2 separate regions of the Homo sapiens genome follow, and region 2 is linked to region 1. The links come from fine-mapping of genetic effects on gene expression. Tissue or cell type: fibroblasts. Region 1 holds a variant in brackets; the other region holds the start of a gene. All regions are shown on one strand. Distances are between the middles of the regions.

Region 1 (10,882 bases):
GTGTACACTTCGTAGGTTTATATTATCTGGGTCTCAGTTCCCTTATCTATAAAAAGAAAAGGGCACAGTGCTGGATCTGGTTATTTGTAGTTCTAAGGAAGATTAATCTATTAATAACCAGTCGACACCTTAAAAAATTACAGAAGTGGCAAATGCAAAGTGCCAAGAAACAAACTTTTGTCAACTAGGTTACCCTGTAAACATTCACTTAAAGAAAAAAATGAAAAGGAACAGGATCCTTATTAAAGCTTGGTGAATTTAAACCCACACTGTAACGTAAAATGGAAATTCAATTTGTCAAGGAGACTAACAAAGGCAGGAATCACAACTGAAAAGTGATATATCCTCAATGGTTTCCTAGTTGCTAAAACTTAGAGTCAATCATCTTAATTGAAGACACTGAAAATGTACAAGTATCTGTCATTATAATCATATCAACAGTAGGTAAGATGCCTTATACTACTATAACAACTATAGGTAATTTCAAACAGAAAAAAAGCAATATACTTTAAATTATTTAGGGTAAATAATTTATTGTGCCTGCTTTAAAATAACGTTTCCCAATCCAACTAGGTTCAGATATTCAAACTGAGTAAGGATAATTTATTTATAAAACTGAAATACAACTTGGGTTCACAAGGACCATGCCTAACCAATTTTTCCTGCAACTCAGCATTATGTAATTCAAAGAAGAGAATAAATATATGTAAGTTTGACTGCAGAAAAAGGAAATTTGAATTTTACTTGTATAATGCCAAGTCAAAGAAACCAAGTTAAATACAGATATCCACACAAGAAATGAAACTCATTTATTAAACCTTCTTAATAAAAGTAACAATTACAGTTAGAAGCATGGCCAATTCTTAATAACATTAGTATAATTTAAAAATTTCTATAATCAAAAAGTAAGTATTTTGTTATTTGAACATTTTTTAATGTTGCCTTCAGAGGTTATACAATAAAAATAACTTATAATATGCATCTTGTACCTTGGTGTCTCATTTTTAAGTTATATCCCAAACAAAACTGAAATATAAGCAAATGGCTCAAGCAAAGTTTCATTAGATGGAAAAAGAATAAAACTTACTCTCATTAAGTCTGGCTAGAGGTGGTGGTGATGGGATGTTGTACTGTAACATAAATGACACAGCTGGATAACACAAAGCATGAAAACAAGGGAAAGGCTCCATCCTATCACTGTTTAGACCCTTCAGTGTCCCACTTATGCATGCTACAAGGCAACTACTGGAAGAAGAATACACCTCTTATTTTCGAGCAGAAAGGAAGCAATTCTCTATCTGCCAGTAGTAAGGGATTTCTTCTTAAACTGTTTCTCTGACACCAGTGATTTGTAACAGTAGATTTTTATTAGGGACTTATTTATTGAAGAAAATTAAGATGTTGAAAAATTCTTTTTCCTGTTCTCTCTGCTGTTTGGAAATAGATGGGGGAGTGGGAAACTAGAGAAGTGTCTTCAATATGCACAAGGGCTTTGATTAATTTACAGCAATGACCCATTGAAAGTTTCCCTTTTGATGCCCAGGTGTCAGGATTCCAATATTAAAGTTCCCATAATCTTCTCCAACCAAATGCAAATTGTTGACAGACATTTTCTCCTCCTTCAATATTCCTTCAATTATAGCCCCTTAGGACTAGATATCTGAGACTATATTGTAGGAGGATAAAAAAAATTACAAGAACACTTCATTTTTGAAAACTCAAGTCTATACCACTGAGTCACAATAACGACAATTCTGCAAGCTTTTGGTTAGCTTACATTTTCTTGGCTTAACTATGGTAAACTAGGCTAAAAGTAAACCACATTGTACTTTTTCTTGTGTAAAATTATAATTTTACATAGTAGAATCAAGGACTTATGAATTTTGTCATCCTCTTCAAAAATCCCTATTTTTAGTGAGTCAGTAGAAAGTCCAGGATGCCACTGAAATAGATTCTTCTGAAATCAGTTAAATAATTACTATTATTTTTCAACGTTTTCAAAATAAGTATATCCTTGACCTATAAAAGAATGCCTGTGCTGACAATTTCTTGAATGTCACCATTTAATAAGCAAGACGTCATCATGAATGTACAATTACACTTCATTTGTGATGGTGGGTCCTTGCAACAGGAAGTAAGATTGGAGAAATGCATGGGAACTTTTGGAATAAATTCTCCATTCTGGTTTTATGATTTTAATATAAGTGCAACAGTTAGAACACACAACAAGAGAAAAGGACAGGAACACACTTGGGAAAAAGATGACTTTTCTATTTGAGCCAGCTATTTTAGAAAAATCCTAGAATACTTACAGTGAGTGTCAGAATGCCATCTGGTTGTACTGTTAATGTAAATTTTAAATGTAACTTTAAGGATTGATGCAGATTTTCTTTTGTAAAACCAGAAACATTAAAAGTTACACCATAGCAAGGGTCACAGCAAGGGGCAAGTGGGTTGCTTAATGGAATAATCATTTCAAATATATATATTGTAATTGCAGAAATCTGGAATCATAGGATAATCTGCATCAGTAATAATATTGGCACCTTGCTTTATAATAAAGTCCTTGAAGATTAAAGTGTACAATCATACTACAATCCTGAGTAGTAGAATCCTTGCCTCTAGAAGTGAGACTTGGATAGAGAGATGCATCTTTTCCCACAAGCTCTGAATTTCTTCCACAACTATGTTGAGTTACAGTCTGAAATTTTTTTTAGAAAGTAATACAATTCCATCACATGTAGAAGCTGTTAATCTGAATTAGGAATGGAACGAATCTGATAACATGGCCATGTAGACTTTTCAGCAAACTCTTCCCTAGGGTCCAGGCCGCTGTCCAAGTTGACTACCCTCCCAGCTTGAGGGGGTACTGCACTACAGAGGGGAAATATGGGGATAAAGCAGGAGGACTAGCACAGAAAGGCAGCAACAATAGTATCATGTAACATTTGCTAGCACCATGTATAACTCATGGTCTCTTTCCCCATGAGGACAATCCTTTTCTAGCACTCACAGTAATGACTTCCACTTGAGGTGGCAATTATTTGTATCTTCCCAATTTTTCCTTCTAATTTTATTCTGGTAAGGAGACTACATTCTCCACCACCAAAAAAGACTTAGATATCATGAAAACTGGAGCTAGGTCAGGTCCCTTTCCTCTTTGGTTAAAGAAGAGCTGCAAATATGTGGACTGAGAACTACCTCTGCCCTGTGGAGAAAACAATTTAAAAAATAAACACAAATTTGCAGAGAAAGTCAGAGAAAGGAGACAAGAGTCTTGACAATATTCAAGTCTTGCACTATCAAAGGCTAGTTCTACTCTATCCATCTTGAAGCCTGGTTATGTGAGGCAACATACCCACTTTTTAGCTAATATAAGTTGAACTTTTGTAATCCAAGAATTCCAACTCTTATACCTCCCTTTACCAGATGCTTATTTTCACCTGTATAAAAATATTAGCTTTTGTCTCTCCTCCCCACCACCCACCCACCTCAAAGACTATAAATAATGTAATTTGCCTCAACAGCAAACCCCTAGGGATGGCAATGTTTGAAATAATCCTTTTCAGATACTTAATCTTTTGATGACTGACTTTACATTACGTATTACCATAAATGCAAATCAGTAGCTCCTTTGTCAAGAACTCCCCTCCCAATACTACCTTCCTCTCTGGTACATAAGCTTTGAACTCGGTCAGCAAAAGGCAAGTGGCCATAGCTGGGTTAATAATGCACTACTAGTAAATATATCCATGGCAGTAATTTCAAAGGTGTAAAAGAGAAAGGCAGCCTTATTGAAATGTGTTCTTGCTTGTAGGTTCTTAAGACAAAAGCAATCTGACATCATCTCTCAAACTACGTGGGTAATTTGGTTTTGTTTTGGGGGTTGTTTTTGCTCAGAAACCTGAAGAATCTAACCATTCCCTATACAGTAAATTCTAGGACGTTCTGAAGAATTACAGCTTTTCTAGAGAGCTTAATATAATCTCTCATGAATAAAAACAAGTCATCTTATTTGTCCACAAGTTATTAAGTATCATCTGATGAGAATATAATGGCTTTTGTCAGCATCTGTGAATTAATCATATTCTAGTAAAAATGTTACAGCTTCTTTCTGCTACCCTATTAAATAATAGTCATTTTTTTGCAATCTTTTGTCATACTCTTTCTAGAGATGTTGGATTGAAATTCTAATGTTATAATGCAGATCATATCCTAAGGCAGTCTGACAACAGAATAAGTCCTGACACAATGTTCATTAATTATTAACAATAGCAGAAACCATTAGTCCAGTAAAACACAAATAAATGAGGTGAACAAATGAAATATATGGTGAGTCTTTGGTGTGCAATTTTCATGGGAAGAATTGTTATCTTCATTTTTCAAACAGGGAAACTAATGCACAGAGAAGTTAACGAACTTGCCACGTGTTACGTACAACTCCCAAGTAGTTTGAGAGTTGATGTCAGATTGCTTCCGTCCTAAGAATAAGGGGCAGAACTGGGATTGGATTAAAGTCTTTTGGACTCTACAGTGTATGTTCTTTTCACTATACCAGACTGCTCTCCCTCAACTCAAGTTCTGTGAAGCAGCAATTACAAAGCTTTCCCACCATACCTTCCAAGGAACCCTTTGATGACCATCACATTTCACAGAATTTTTTTTATTATAAATTACTCCTCTTGGAATGCCTATGGAGTAAGGGGAATATGTAGTTAAGATACCGAGGGAGAGTTAATGGAGATCGCCCACAAAAGGTCTACTTTTGGAAATGCTATTATATATAGATCAGCCTACTTTAGGAGCATTCAATTTTGGTTTCATTAAGTATGTATATACTTCAGAGCTAGAATTATATTTAAGAAATCTATTGTATATTTTTCCAGCATCTGGTCATGAGAATATTTCAAAGAAAGGAAAGCCCTTTGTTTTGTTAATGCATATCCCCTCCTCCCTGCAACTCCCCTCCCAACTAATGAAGTTACTCTTAGTCTCAGAAAACTGGTTTAGGAAAACTTTAAAAATATAACAAAAAAACAAGCCACTAGGCCGGGTGCGGTGGTTCACGCCTGTAATCC[C/T]AGCACTTTGGGGGGCCAAGGTGGGTGGATCAGGAGGTCAGGAGATCGAGACCATCCTGGTTAATGTGGTGAAACCCCGTCTCTACTAAAATACAAAAATTAGCTGGGCTTGGTGGCACATGCCTGTAGTCCCAGCTACTCGGGAGGCTGAGACTGGAGCATTGTTTGAACCCGGGAGGCGGATGTTGCAGTGAGCCAAGATTGCGCCACTGCACTCCAGCCTGGGCAAGTGAGACTCTGTCTCAATAAATAAATAAAATAAAATAAAATAAAATAAAATAAAATAAAATAAAATAAAATAAAATAAAATAAAAACAAGCCACTTAGTTGCTTAGCTCTTTCTACTTCGAGGCAGGATACAGTCTGTTTTGTTTGACTATTATCTCCCCGAACTTGTTACGCTATAGGTGACTGTTGAAGGGGAGGGCTTTACTAACTTAACTCTGGTTAGAAAACAAACAGTTACACAGTTGACTGAGCCTGAGGGTGGAACAGCTTTAAGACAGGAAAGATAAATCCTAAAAGACCATTCTAAAATATTTATATAGTTAATGGGAACAAAAAAATTCCCTCACAAACTATGGCTTCCTCCAAAGAGAAAAATAAGTATCACCAAAATGGAAGAGCTCCCACCTATTAAGTAAATGTTCTAAATTTGTTTCCATTTGCTGTAAAGAAATGTGTACATCCACAAGTTTTCTGAAACTGCTGTTACATTTCAATGTAAATTCTTTTTGGAAGACAAATGAAAATGCTGAGTAGGCTTTCCTTACCTTTCCTTCTCCCCCCACCCCCCCGCCTTTTCTTTGGTTTCTTTAAAAAAAGCTCTGAGCAACACACCAGTCTTAATGCATTAAGATTAGAAGCATGTGTCCAAAGAAAAGTTGGTCCTGACAGAAGGCTATTTTACTTCTTACCATTAGAAATGGGAAGAAAAGCTGCTGTGCAAGTGCTACATGTCACCAATCCAAAGAGGTTATGCCCTTTGGCAGCACATTTAAGAAAAACCTGTATATTGTTAGCTCTAATGATTTCCAGGTCTTTCTTGTTCAACTAGGGGTGCCTACCTGGCAACATATTAAAAGATGTTAAAATAAAATTCAGGAGACAGAAGACAGGCTGGTTGTCAAAAGAAAAAAAAATCAGATGCCAGTATGACAAAGACTTTTTATTTTGGAAGATGGGTAATAAGTGCATTAATAAAAAGGAAGAGTAAGAAGGGAACATTACCCAGTATTATCTGTTTCAGTTGGATTGGTTGCACACCTGCAATGTTTCTTCTGGGATACTGCAAAATGGAATTAACAAAGGTCTCTTAACAGGAAAGGAAATGACCCACAGATCAGACTGTCTCACTGGAGTGTCGTTTTAGAGATTACTATGGAAATTCTGGTCATGACATTCTAAAGAAACAGGTCTTACATCTCTGGGAATAACTTTTATTTGGTAGATTACTGAAATGTTAACTATGTGGAAGGGGGTTATTTTATATCTAATAAAGTGAAGCAACAGAAGCTATAAGAACTGTATTGACCTTTTTCATATCAATGATTTTATATATGTGTGTGTGTATATATATATATATAAATATAATTATATATTTTAGACATGTGTGTAAATGTAGAAATTAAACGCTGTGTACTCATTGCCCAGATAAAAGTGTTTACCACATCTGCTTCAGATACATTTTATTAAGACATAATGCTACTACAGATGCATCCAAAGACTGCATCTTTAACTGAATCTGTCCCAGTTTACCATTATTCTGGCTCTGGTATGAATCCTTGATACTCACACTTTAACTTTTGATACATATGACTGTAGCCATAAAAATATGGTTGTTTTATGTTTTTAAAATTTACATAAATGGCTCACACTGGCCTAAGCTTTTATATATAACTTGCTTTCTCCCAAATCAGCCTTGTTTTTACAATTTATCCATGTTGATGTGCTTCAAGTCAGTGACGAGTAAATAAATAAAATGAAATAAAATTGATCCATGTTAATATATCTAGATCTAGTACATTTATTTCATATATATAGTATTCCACTATATGAATATAAGCCCACAGATCCAAGAAACTCACTGAATCCCAAGAAGAAACATGAAGAAAATTACATTTAGACATCACAATCAAATTGCTCAAAACCACTGATAAAGAGAAAAATCTTTAAAGCTGCCAGAGGAAAAAAAGACATATTACACACAGAGGAACAAAGATAAGGATTATAGCATATTTCTCATTGAAAACAATACAACCCAGAAAATAACAGAGTAACATCTTTGAAGTACTTAAAGGAAGTCACCCTAAAATTGCATACCCAGCAAAAATAACTTTCATTATTATTATTATTTTTTAACAAGCTCCCGCTATGTTTTTAACAAGCTCCCACCAGGAGATCTCAAATTCCTGGCCTCAAGCGATCCTCCCACCTCTCGGCCTCCCAAAGTGTTGGGATTACAGGTGTGAGCTACCACGTGGCTAAAAAAACCTTTCAAAAATGGAGATGCTATAAAGACTTTTTCAGACATTAAAAAAAAATTAAAATAATTTATCACCAGCAGACTTGCACTATAAGTAGTCATAAAGGAAGTAAAATGACTAACAGATGAAAAACTGGGTATCTACAAAGAAATGAAGAGCATGGAAAATAATAACAAGCACAGGAAACAACAACCACACAGGTAAATATAAAGACTTTTGGTATTATTTAAATCTCCTTAAAAGACAACTGTTTAAAGCAAAATAACAATGTAGTGTGGGGCTTAAAACATATGTAAGAGTGAAATGTATGACAGCAGTAGCCCAAAGGCTGGAAGGTGAGAAATGGATATAGACTACTATGCTATGCATAAAATAGTATAATACCAATTGAAGGTATACTGTGATAGGTTAAAGATGTATACCATATACTTAAAGCCAATCATTAAAATAATATAGCAAACAGTTACAACTAAAAAGCCAACAAGAAAGATAAACATGCATGATTCATTTAAAATTCTGATAAACTGGAAGTCATTAAAATTAGAAACTTCTGCTCTTCAAAAGACACTGTTACAAAGACAAAAACACAAGCCACAAACTGGGAGTACTTATTTGCAAATGATGTTGCTGATAAAGGATTTGTATTCAGCATTAGAAAACCCTCAAAGCTCAATAAAAAAAATACACACACAATTTTTTTTAAAAGTAGAGAGAAGATTTGAACAGATAATTCAGCAAAGAAGACATAAGGATGGCAGATCACTAGTCATTAGCAAAATGCAAATTATAACCACAAGTAACACTACACACACATTAAAATATCTAAAATTTAAAAAACTAACCATACTAAGTAACAGCAGTGATACGGAGGTACTGGAACTCACACACTATTGGTGGAAATGTGAGGTGGTAAAACCATTTGGGAAAACAATTTAACTTAAAAAAATTATGCATACACCTAGCTTATTATCCAGCCATTTCATTCCAGGTGAAATGAAGGCATATGTCCATGCAAAGACTTATATATGAATGTCCAAGGAGTTTTGTTTCTAATAGCCCTAAACTAGAAATAACTCAAATGTTCATCAGTAAGTGAATGAAAAAAAAAAACAACAAAACTATAGTATATCTCTACAATAGATTACTACTAAGCAATAAAAAAGGAATGAACTATTAATTCATGCAACAACATGGATAGATCTCAAAATAAATAAGCTGCGTGAAAGAAGCCAGATGAAAAAGAGTTCATTTTATATGATTCTATTTACATAAAAATCTAGGAAATGAAAACTAATCTATAGTGACAAAAAGCCTACAGATGGCAGTGGGAAGAGAAAGGTGGGGAAAGAAAATATTACAAAGGGGTAGAGGAATTTGTGGTGATGAATATGTTCAGAATCTTGACTGAGGCAATAGTTTCATGTGTATACGTACATCAAACTTACCAAACCATATGATTTTAACAAAGTTCTTTACATCATCTAAACCTGTTTTCATTAATCATATTGTTGGTGCTGGTATTCTGAGTACTGTGTATGCACTGTGAGGTGAACAAATGAATACTTATGTGAAGTTCTAATTCTATCATTTCTGGCACCACTGAAAACCAAGGGAACCAATACTTTGTATGGGAAAAAGGAGATTCAAGACCAGAATTTTAATCATTTGAATTTGAAGTATCAGTATGAACTCCTGGTATCATTTTATCTTAAAGATATGCCCACTAAAAAAAGCCTAGAAACAATGACAAACCCAAGCGATGAGTACCTCTAGTGCCAAGGGAACCTTGGAGAAATGGCTGATTCCAGATCTGGGTTAGAAAATGTACAGATGAGCCTGGAACATGTTGTCAAATCTAGACAACTAGGGTTATGTCAAAAGGACTCAGGAGCCCAGTGACCAAAATAACAACTTGCATACCAATAAAGACAATGATTTCAGTGAAATAAAAATATCAAATATTTTTCTATTTGAAACTAAGAAATATTTTTCTATATGAAATATAACTTAAATCCATAAGTTAATTAACTGGTTACTGTTAGAGGATGCTAATGGATCAATTCATTATTTTGAAAATGAATAAAGCAAACAAATTATGCATTTATCCCATCATTTATAGAAACCGTACCTACCAACAAGTAATCAAATAGAAAATGAAGTTTCACTTTATAGAACTATTTCAGCTAACAAATACAGAAGACCTGGTAGAATTAGATTATTACCATTTTGCAAACCTTAACAAATTAATGGATCTAGGTATTAATCATCAATGTCTATAATATGAAAAAGCAGAGATGATCCAATATTATGTGCCTCCTGATTAAGTACAGATCACTTGTACTATCTAATGAAGTAGTCATAGCCACCCATCAAAAAACAAACAAGCAAATAAACAGAAACATGAATGTGATCAAGTCTCCAGATTAAACTACCAATGAACAGAAAAGAGAGCAGAATAACATGCTATATACTACATGGATGCAACCAGTAACATACAGATTGTGATAAACTCTAAGACAAAGCCACCTGAATTCCTCAAAATTAAATTCCAAGGGGAAAAATAAGAGAGGGAACCACTCCCTAGATGCTGACATTCTCAAAGTTCAACCTTTTTATTTCTCTAGCCTTTCCTCCTTTGGTGACCTCATTCACCATATTAAGCTATAAACTTTGTGACTGATTATCAAATCTCTCATGATGACACCAAAGAGGTGACATGTCTAAAGCCCAACTTCATCATGGGTTACAGATTCACAGGACCAAAAGGAATCTTAGAAATCATCCAAGCTAACCATCTACCTAACATACTGATCCAATACAAACAAGGTCACTTTCAAAAACTTGGAGCAAAATTTTGAACAGAAAATAAATAAAATCCAAATTTCCTAACATTCAAAGCCCAATCCCTGTTTCTAGTTTTATCTTCCTTCTCTTCTACATATATTCTACTCCACTGACAAACTAGACAATAGCTATTCCCCAAATATGCCCGTATGCTCTTACCTAATCTGTTTCTATACCATAGCCCCATCTACTATTTCCATTAGCTGAAATATTCCCATTGGCGAGATAATGATCTTCTATTCTGATTTACATCCCTCTATACAATAAAGGTGAATGATTAGCATTTCTACAGTATCTCTGATATTCAGGATTGAGTATAAAACACTCAAAAGAACCAAGCTAGAACCAAATCTTTCTCACCAAGTCCAATTCAAATACCACTTGTTAATACCTACACATAGCTCTAACTCATTTCTGACCCACATTTCCCAAATTTTCCCTAATTTGGCACATATAGACAGCCTATATAAAAGT
Region 2 (10,882 bases), 230 kb before region 1:
TAAAGGCAACTCCAGGGTAAGAATTTATCTTACTTACAATGGAAAATCCAAGAATATTTTTCCTGTTAATTTTTAATCAAAAGATAAAGCCTCGCTATTGTGAAATAGAAGCCCCACTGCTGCAAGAGCACTTTAAGCAAACATCCAGAAACAAATATCCTGTTAGCATATTATTAATTTCAGAAAGGCTTTGGCTAGATAACCAATTTATTGACCAAAGGATATCCAAATTTGTACTTAATTTGAAATTGAAATTCATAGCAATGCCCTTCGCTTCCTTCTAAGCACTTTTCTGGATGGGAATGTGGTTTGAATAGGATTGAATTGATAAGAAACACAAAGGCTAAGTCACTGTCCCTCTCCAGGGTTCTACTTCCTCATCTGTAAAATGAGCAACTTGGACTAGATGTTTTCTTAAGATCCCTTTTTTGCTTTTTAGATTTTTAAAAATACTGGATGACACTACCTGCTTTAAAAGATTGACTATAAAATTATTATTATTTTTTTTGAGACAGTCTCTGTTGCCCAGGCTGGTGGAGTGTGGTGATTTGATCTCGGCCCACTGCAGCCTCAACATCCCGGGCTCAGATGATTCTGTCACCTCAGCTTCCCCAGTAGCTGGGACTACAGGTATGCGCCACCAAGCCCAGCTAATTTTCTGTAGAGACGGGGTTTTGCCACATTGCCCAGGCTGGTTTCGAACTCCTGGGCACAAGCGATCCTCGCTTCAGCCTCCCAAAGTGCTGGGATTACAGGTGTGAGCCACTGCACCCGGCCTGACTGCAAAATTTAAGAGGCATTCTGGGCCAGGCCCGGTGGCTCATGCCTATAATCCCAGCACTTTGGGAGGTCAAGGCGGGTGGATCACCTGAGGTCAGGAGTTTGAGACCAGCCTGGCCAACATGGTGAAACCTCGTCTCTACTAAAAATACAAAAATTAGCTGGGTGTGGTGGCTCACGCCTGTAATCCTAGCAACTCTGGAGGCTGAGGTTGCAGTGAGCCGAGATCGAGCCACTGCACTCCGGCCTGGGTGACAGAGCGAGACTCCATCTCAAAAAAAAATTAAAAAAAAAAAAAGGCATTCTGGCCATTTGAACTTCACTTTCTATTCAATTTGTTTACAACCTCTCTGATCCAACTATTTCATAAACTGAGGCAGACTTGTACAGCACTTTAATTTCTAAGGCCTACAAGATGAGATCAGCAAAATTTAAAAAACAATCACCCAGATGTCGTAATAATGAATTATCATAATCGTAACCAACCATCTGCCCACAGTCATATACCTGCCACCTGATGCCAGAATGAGGCTGGGACTAATTGTGAGTAGGAGAGTAGAAAGCCCAGGCACCTGGCAGATGGGTGAGGCGTGTAGGACCTGGGGTAGAGTGCCTGGCTTTAGGCAAGGCCTTTAATCTCCCTACACTTGTGTCCCCATCAATAAAATAGAGCCAGTAATAGTGCCTACTTCACTATTGGTAAGAGAGTGACTTAATACATGTAGTCTTTAAAATAATGGCTAGCACATAATGATTAATTGAATGTAATTAATACATATTTGGAGATATTCAAGTTTAATCCCATTAAAATCGCAGCTCACGACTGGTCATTAAAAATTATTAGTTATGGCCTCCCTACCAAAGGTAATGAAACTGTTTCCACTTATACCTGACTCTATTTGACTCAACCCACCCTTGTTATACATAAAAGATTCACCTGGCCTGCACGCACGATCTCTAAACCAGTGGTTGCTACTCACCAATCTTGTACTTCTATAATTTAGAATGGGAACACAGACTGATTTCAGAGCCAGATGCTCACTTGTTTTTCCTTATTTTTACCAGAAGCAATGTTACCCAGCTGCAAATGATACTACAAAATGCTTCCCATCCTCTCCTTACCATGTTCTTATCCAAACTAAATTCTTACTGTTTCATAATAAAATAAGAGTTTTTCCAGGCCAGGCGTGGTGGTTCACACCTGTAATCCCAGCACTTTGGGAGGCTGAGGCATGCAGATCGCTTGAGGTCAGGAGTTTGAGACCAGCCTGGCCAACATGGTGAAACACCATCTATAACAAAATATAAAAATTAGCCAGGCGTTGTGGCAAGCACCTGTAATCCCAGCTATTTGGGATGCTGAGGCAGGAGAATTGCTTGAACCCGAGAGGCAGAGGTTGCAGTGAGCCGAGATTGCACCACTGCACTACAGCCTGGGCGACAAGAGACTGTCTCAAAAACAAAATCAAAAAAAAAAAAGAAAGAAAAACAAAAAGTAAATAAAAAAATGAGTTTTTCCAAGCAGTGATTTGGTGCAATCCAAGAAAAAAAATTTATTGTGCATGTTTCAGCCCAACCACTAGGTGATCTCCTACAGGTTTTTTAACTCTAGGGAAACATTCCTTCTATTTCAGGAAGAAAATGACAGATGTTAAATTTTGGCATTTTTCAAAGAGAATATGAGAATAACTCAAGGCGTTTATTATTATTTGCCCCATAGAGAAGCAACAAAATCAGCATTTCCTACACCAAAGCAACAAGAATGGAGGCACAGACCTTCCATGCCAGGATGCCACCGAGCTAATGCCTTCAAACATCATCACACACACAGATACACACACACCCAGGATGCCCGTGCTAATGCCTAAATCTCACACAAACACACACACACACACACACACACACACACACACACACACACAGGTTCTGGCCAGATGCTGCCTGCACTGGCCCTTGGGCCTTCTGCAGTAAGTCAGCATTAAAAAAATAAAGCTGACGCTGGGCACGGTGGGTCACACCTGTAATCTCAGCACTTTGGGAGCCCGAGGCAGGAGGATGGCTTGAGCCCAGAAGACCAGCCTGGGTAACACAGTAAGACATCATCTCTACAAAAAATAAAAAATTAGCCAGGTGTGGTGGTGTGCACCTATAGTCCTAGCTACTCAGGAGACAGGTGGGAGGATCTCTTGTGCTCAGGTTCAAGGCTGTGGTAAGCCATGACTGCATCACAGCACGCCAAGCCTGGGTGACAAAGGACCCTGTTTCTAAAAAAAAGACTGAGAAAATTTTATCAAATGTAAACATTTAAATGGGATCTTTATGATATGATGCTGAGCACCTTTTAAGTGTATTTTGTTAGGGGTGAGCAAGACGGGCTTGTGAGAATGGCACATCCAGGAAGGATAAAGAAGACAACAGCTGTGAAGTCTGGAATGGCTACATGGAGTAGCAGGCTAATTACCAAGTATTAAAAGGTCCTATAACACCAGAGATTGTAAACAGGCAGCCTGTCTGAGTATTGCTGGCCACACAGGTTTCAAAAACCACAGATAGGCCAACACTGTAGTAGATTTTCCTTTCTTCAGGGCAATTAATGGTTACTGCAGAGCTGCGATGACCTCTTCGGTCTTTGGGAAGAGTCTGTACTCTCTGGCCCTGTAGTAGGCTGAATAATGGCCCCCAAAGATAACCACATCCTAATCCCTGGAACCTGTGACTATTACTTTATTTGGCAAAAGGGACTTTGCAGATGTAATTAAGGATTTTGAAATGGGAGATTTTCTGGGTTATCTGGTGGGCCCTGAATGTATGACAAGTGTCTTTATAAAAGCGAAGCAGAGGGAACTCTGACTACAGAAAGGGAGGCAATGTGATGACCCGAAGCAGAGATTGAAGTGACGTGAACACAAGCCAAGGAACATTGGCAGCCACCAGAAAATGGAAGAGGCAAGAACCAGATTCTCCCCTGGAGCCCTCAGAAGGAGTGAGCCCTGCCTTGATTTGAGCACTGTAAGATTTCATTGTGAACTTCTGGCCTCCAGAACTGTAAACAAATAAATCTGTTAAATCACTACATTTGTGGTAACTACAACAGCAATATGAAAACTAACCCACCCTGTATATGTTTGAGCTTATAATTTAACTCAACTCTCTCAACAGTTGAGGAGGATATAGAGCCCTGACCTGCCCAAGTCACCTCCAGTTCTTGGAAGAACCAAGTCCCCAGACTGCAACTTGCTACACGCTACCTACGCTTTTCCCATGCAAAAGGAGGTCAGAGGTCTTCCAGTTGTGTTTGGTTCTAGAAGCAAACAAAAAAGAGTGACTTATGGGAGTGGTAGAACATTCTTGAGCCGTGGCCTTTTTGGGAGAGTTAGGCCCCTTGAAAAGTCGATGGAAGCTATATTCTCCTTGCAGGAAACAAAAGGCACACACACTTGCACCCATTTTTGGGAGTTCATGACCCTCAGGTAAAGAACCCCTCCTCGGCAGATAAAAAGCATTTAAGGAAAAACAGACGCAAAATAAAATCTTCGGGTAGACAAGTCAGTCCTGCCTACAGTTATAGATAAGATGGAGAAACAAAACTGAGGACAGGAATTCCATGGAAGAAGGTCACAGGGTCCAGATACGAGAAAAAAACCTCAACGAACCGGGAAACTAAAACTATAGCTTTGAAGAAAAAAACAAAGCATTAAAGCAGAGTTTGGGGTTGAAAGAATGCTCTCCAACAACCAGGAAATCGGGATTTTCACCTTTATTTTTACTCAGGAGATCATTGTTACTCGAACCCAATATTGAAGAGCCAATCTGAAAAGATGGCAATTTACTCCTGAGCTCTGGAAGTTGCTGGAACCTGATCTCGAAGCAGTGACGATCTGTGAACGCCCCAGCTGCACCAACCAAGGTGCTAAACCTTCAGACAGGTCTATTTCTACTCGGATTTTTTCTTTGGGATCAGACTGGTATTTTAAAGCCCTTCCAAACAAACAAACAAAAAACCAGAAGCTTAAAGCAAACCTAACATGTGACTTTGGACACCACTTCATCCAGACTACTTCCCTCAGACACTGACAACCGGCCAGAGGTGGAATCGCGGGAAACCTTAAACCCAGGGAAGAAGTGACTTTAAAGGAAACAAAGCGTTCGCCCCCGCCGCTTGGGAGAAGGGGCTGGGATAGAGACAAAGCCCGAGGAAAACACCGAACTAAAGTTGGGTTAGGAGCGGGGGAGGCATGGGCAGGACCCGAGAGAGGCAACTGGAACCCAGAGTGCGCGAGCGCGGAGGAGGTGAAGGCCCTGTGGACGCAGCGCCGGGAGAGCCTCAGCGGGCCGGGATAAGAGGGGCGCCCCTCACCTCGACTGGGTAGAGCTCGCGCGGCAGCACCGCCTGCAGGTCCATGAACAGGGTGATGGGGATGTGGCTGAGGAAGTAGAGGCCCAGCAGCCACTCCACGCAGCGCCTGGTTGCCGGAGCCCCCATAGTCTGTCGGTTGGGCCTGGACCCGCTGATGTGAGAAGAGGGGCCAAATCCGCGCGCCTTCCCAGACCCACGCGCCTCGGTCGCCGCCTTGCCCCCGCGAGGGCTAGGCAGACCGCTTCCATTGGCTGGCGAGAAGAGGAGGCTCGTGGACAGGGGGCGGCACTCCCCACAGGGCGCACCCATTGGTCCGTATAAGTATAGCGCGTGGAGAAGGCGTCTCGTAAGCCATTTCCATTGGCCGCCAGGAGCGCCGTGTGGGCGGGGCTTAGTCACGCCGTTCGGCGCGCGGCTACTCAGTGTAGATTGCGGTTGTGAGCGCGAGCCTAGCGTTTCGGTGCTGGCCGCGTGGTATCCTGGTGTCCCGGCAGCTGCCGGCGGCGCTCCCTTCCCTCGTGGCTCCGTTCGCCACTACAACAGCAGTATGAAAACTGCACTGGCCCTTGGGCCTTCTGCAGTAAGTCAGCATTAAAAAAATAAAGCTGACGCTGTGCACGGTGGGTCATGCCTGTAATGTCTGCACTTTGGGAGCCCGAGGCAGGAGGATGGCTTGAGCCCAGAAGACCAGCCTGGGTAACTTAGTAAGACATTATCTCTACAAAAAATAAAAAATTAGCCAGGTGTGGTGGTGTGCACCTGTAGTCCTAGCTAGTTCGTGTACTAGTGACCAGCGCCTGTGCTGGGCCGCGGTACCCCGGTGCAGTGCGGCCGTCACGGAGCAGGGGTCGCAGAGCGGGGCACGAGCGCCGCGGTGCAGGTTCCCGGCCCAGCCGGGGTTGCGGGTCTGGGGAGGCAGCTGGCCGCGGTGAACAAAGAAGCAGAGGGGAGGACTCGAGGGACGTAGGAGGCAGTAAAATGGACAGGAATCCTCACCGGCTGTGGAGCATGAGGGAAGGTCAAGGATTCGTTTACACGTTCAGCAAATACTGATGTTCATCTCCACGCTGGGCGCAGGCCTGTCTCGGGGCAGGATCGCCGAGGCTGCCATTTGCTAAGAGGGGACACAGGGCAAGGGAGTGCGAGGAAGGAATGCAGCTTGGACTACGTGGACCTTGAGTGGGCTGCAGCGTTGGGTGGAGGAGGCAGTTGGGTGAGCCTGTCTGGAGTCGTAAGCTTGTGAGGCATCCGCCTTTGATGGCGAGCAGAGGGCCTGGGAGAGATCCTGGGGGAGCTCCAGCCTCAGGTCATGGGAGGAGGGGACTGAGATAGGAGCGTACTAGCAGGGGGCTATGTCACAGGGAGGGGCAGCCTGTCAACACTGAGTGATGCCCGCCTGTGGCCCTGTGGGGAACAGTTGTGTCGTGGGGGCAGGAGCCAGGGAGTAAGAAAGTGGGGAAATGGAGGCAGGAAGTGTAGACAGCTGGTCACGAAGGGGAGAAGACATGGGGCAGTAGCTGGAGAGAGATGCACTCGAGAGTTTATTTTGCAGGTGAGAAAGACTTGAGCTAGTTTAGTTTTGACAGTGGGAGAGGTTACCCCTACTCGAGAAGAGCAGGAAATGCGGCTCAAAGCCCTGGAGGAGGCGGAGGGAATGGAAGGATTGGGGTGGGTTAGGTGGGTGCACTGCGCTCCGCCCAGCTTCCCCTTCCCTTGGGGCGCTGTGGGCTAGGACAGAGGGATTATGGCAGTGTTGAAGGCCCAGCTGAGGTGGGGGGCCGCTGACCCGGAGGCCCCAATCTCTTAGGCTGTGTGCTTTGCATTTCTCTAGTGCGGGGTCTACCCAGAAGAAGGCTGTTGGACCCCTACAGAGTTTGGGTTCAGAAAAGCGAAAGGTGGCTTTGAAGAGCTGAAGAAGAGTGATTGAGGTGCAGAAGGTTGCAGTTCAAGCTAGGTAGGGGGAGAGGGAGAGGTGAGGCCAAAGGGGGCTGTAAGACAGGGAGACAGTGGAGGCCTGCTGAGGAACACGTGCCAGCGTGATGGGAGTCACTGGGCCGGAAGGGTGGGAGCTTATGAGGAGGGCGTGCAATACCTGAATTCCTGGGGTCAGGAAGAGGTTCTGCCCGTGGGAGTGTGCGGCTGAAATGGAGTGGAGGGGAAGGTCTTTGGAGATGAGGTCAAGGGAAGGCCACCCAGGGTGGTGGTGGCGAAAATGCCACTGCACACGGGGGAGTAACCAGAAGGAAGGTGAGCATGGGATGAGAGTGGAGGGGAAACTGTGTGGACATGGCCTTGCGGAGGGAGGAGGCCGCTTATCCTGACCTTGAAGGGTGCGAGAAGGTGAATAGCCTGCGCTGGAGAGGGCTGTGGGGAAGCTGAGTCCTCAGCCAAGTGCCAGTTACTGGGGGAGGTAACAGTGGAGGGGTTTGGCTGGAGAGGAGGAGGAGCAGGTTGGAAGGAGACAGTAGGAGAAATGTGGAGGTCTTTGGGTGGGGAGCAGGGGATGAACAGCATGGGTGGCTGAGCATCGTGAGGGCACACAGTTCTGGCGTCCCCCAAGTCTCAGGTCAGCCTTGCCCAGGACCACAGAGCCGGCAGCCACAGGGAGGCAGGGGTGTTCAGGGCTGTTTGTCCTGCTCCGAGGGGGGAGCCGGGCTCCATGGAGAGAACACTCTACCAGGGGCTCAGGAGGGAGGACTCAGAATTAGCTGCTGCTTTTTTTCCAGGAAAAAAAAAAAAAGTCAATGCCTGGGAAACCTTAGGTCACCTGAGGAGAGAGCCCATTTTGTTCACACCATAAATCTTTAAAGGCAGTTTGCTCTTTCTCAGACTCCACTCTGTTCCCAGACTAACTACTCCTGTTAGTCACTTAGTAGCCATCTTGGTTATCAAATTGACCATTGAGTTATCACGGTGCTTGTGTTCAAGTAAGCCTTATGTTATTTAATAGTGGGCCAGGTGTGGTGGCTCATACCTGTAATCACTTTGGGAGGCCGAGGCAGGAGGACCCCTTGAGGCCAGGAGTTTAAGACCAGCCTGGGCAACATAGCAAGACCCCATCTCTTAAAAAAAAATTAGCTGGGCATGGTGGCTTGCCTGTAGTCCCAGCTACTTAGGAGGCTGAGGTGGGAGGATCTCTTGAGCCCAGGAGTTTGAGGCAGCAGTGAGCTGTGATCACCTCACTGCACTCCAGCCTCCACAACAGTGAGACCCCTCTCAAAGGCCCTAAAGTGCAATGGTAGCGATGTGACAATTCGGATATGCCAATGAGAAACCATAAAGTTCCTTTATGTGAAAAGGTGAAGATTTTTGATTTAGGAAATAATGCTGAGGTTGCTAAGATCTAGAGAACAGTAAGATATTTTGAGAGAGAGCACATTCACATACTATTTATTACAGTATATTGTTATACTTGTTCTATTTTATTGTTAATGTCTTACTGTGCTTGATTTATAAATTAAACTTTATCATAGGTTTGTATGTATAGGAAAAAACAATATGGTTCAGTACTACCTATGGTTTCAGGCCTCCACTGGGGGTCTTGGAACATGTTCCCCCACGGATAAGGGGGACTTTTGTATACAGCTCCTCTCTCACTTCTCCAAACCATTCACTTGAATGAGAACATGAAGGCTGGGCGCAATGGTTCACACGTGTAATCCCAGCAGAGGCCAAGGCAGGTGGATTACCTGAGGTCAGGAGTTCCAGACCAGCCTCACCAACATGGTGAAACCCAAACTCTACTAAAAGTACAAAAGTTAGCCAGGCATGGTGGTGCACACCTACAGTCCCCGCTACTCAGGAGACTGAGGCAGGAGAATCACTTGAACCTAGGAGGCAGAGGTTGCAGAGTCATGATAGCACCATTGCACTCCAGCCTGGGCGACAGAACAAAACTCTGTCTCAGAAAAAAAAAAAAGGCTGGGCATGGTGACTCAGGACTGTAATCCCAGCACTTTAGGAGGCTGAGGTGGGTGGATCACCTGAGGTCAGGAGTTCAAGACTGGCCTGGCCAACATGGTGAAAATCCATCTCTACTAAAAATACAAAAATTAGCCAGGCATAGTGGCGTGCACCTGTAGTCCTAGCTACATGGGAAGCTGAGGCAGGAGAATCACTTGAACCTGGGAGGTGGAGGTTGCAATGAGCCAGGATCGCACCACTGCACTCTAGCCTGAGTGACAGAGTGAGACTCCGTCTCAAAAAAAAAAAAAAAAAAATGGAACATGAAGAGCTGGGAGGGCCTTTGTAGATATCTAGGGCCTAACACCTCATGAGGAAACTGAGACTCAGAGAGGTGTTTGTCCGAGGTCACAAAGTGAGTGACAAGGCAGGGACTGGAACCCTGGTATCCTAACGCCCAGCCCCAGGCCAAGTCTTCTATCCCTAGGGCAGAGCAGTGCCTTCCCGCACAGGGTCTTCAGACCAAACCCAGGGCCCAGGAGAGGTCTGGCTAGGTTGGCACACTACACAGCTGGAGAGGCCTGGCAGCACTGCTCCCACCCTCCATCCATTATGGCTTTAAGGATATGGTGGTACCATATCCTTTTAATTTACCTTGGGGTGGGTTAGGTGTGTGCTCTGCGCTCCACCCAGCTTCCCCTTCCCTTAGGAAGTTATAATTAAGTTCCCTGTAGAACTTAATTATAACTGCTTGCTGGAGGGCAATGGGGCCGGAGGAGTGTGGGCTAGGATTTGTCCAGGAAATGTGGTAAGTACAGGTGTCAATGTGACAGTTTCTCAGAAAACATCTCATCCAGCCCTGGCAACATAGTGAGACCCCCATTTCTATAACAAAAATTAGCCGATGTGGTGGTACGCACCTATAGTCCCAGCTACTCAAGAGGCTGAGGTGGGAGGATGGTTTGAACCCAGGAGTGATCACACTACTACACTCCTGCCTGGGTAACAGAGTGAGACCCTGCCTCAAAACAAAAAACCCCAAATGTCACCTAGCCAAATTTGTTACCTATAAAGATTTTCAAGGCCAAGCACTTTCAGTGGATGGTTCCTCTGTCCAAAAACATTCTGTCCAGCTGTTTGAAATTTCTTTAGTAGGGGACCATAGCTCTTAATTTGATGAGGTCAGATAAGTCTTAGAATGCAAATGGCTCTAAGAGAGGTCAACTGAGGAAGACAACAGTGTGGAAAGAATGACCCTGTCCTTATGAGAACAATGTTTAGTGCCTTTAAAAAAGTATTTATATTGTGACAAGACAAACACCATTAGCCTAACAGTGGACCCAATGATGGCAGAAAGCGAATTCTAGCATTGTAACCCCAGCTGAAAGGTACTTGGAGCAGGCCATGCCAAATTGGCCACTTGCCTCTTTGGCAGCAACTGTACAAAGCTCTTTCTTCACCTCTCAACTTTTGCTTCACTTTTCTGTCTACTTAAAATGCACCCACCCTTCTCACCCCACCCCTGCTTACCTCCCCCATCTCTATGTATTTTACTATTTGGCTGAAGGCCACCCTACCCCCGCCCCCAATTGCCTCTATTTGGTGGCACTGTTACATCCTCTGAACCTGTTTCCGAAAGTTTGTCCCTTTCCACTGAGCAACACTGATTGGAGCCCATGTCTCTGGACATATTTCCCACTAGATCGTAGATTCCTTGAAAAGTATAAAAACTGTTTATATTTTTCACTGTTTTAAAACTTACCCTTTTAAAAATTAGGAGCCACAACACCAAGTCAAAAAGAATAAGAAATAAACACATCATCAAAATTATTTATTATACAA

What was found. PIP is the estimated chance that this variant, and not a neighbour inherited with it, causes the effect.
Region 2: TMEM97 starts here. The variant in region 1 is the best candidate, but not a certain one, in a credible set for the expression of TMEM97 in fibroblasts (GTEx, PIP 0.53).

Annotation. Positions count from the first base shown.
Region 1 is chr17:28,087,258-28,098,139 of GRCh38, reverse strand. The region is part of intron 1 of NLK (nemo like kinase); the gene reads right to left. Among named protein-coding and RNA genes, the nearest start is that of NLK, 50 kb to the right of the region's middle. The variant C/T (reference allele first, on the strand shown) is at 5,079.
Region 2 is chr17:28,313,621-28,324,502 of GRCh38, reverse strand. It overlaps TMEM97 (transmembrane protein 97), which reads right to left and starts at 5,303. Exons shown (of 3, transcript NM_014573.3): 1 at 5,138-5,303. The coding sequence starts at 5,263. RefSeq lists enhancers at 5,180-5,239, 5,720-5,979, 6,199-7,024.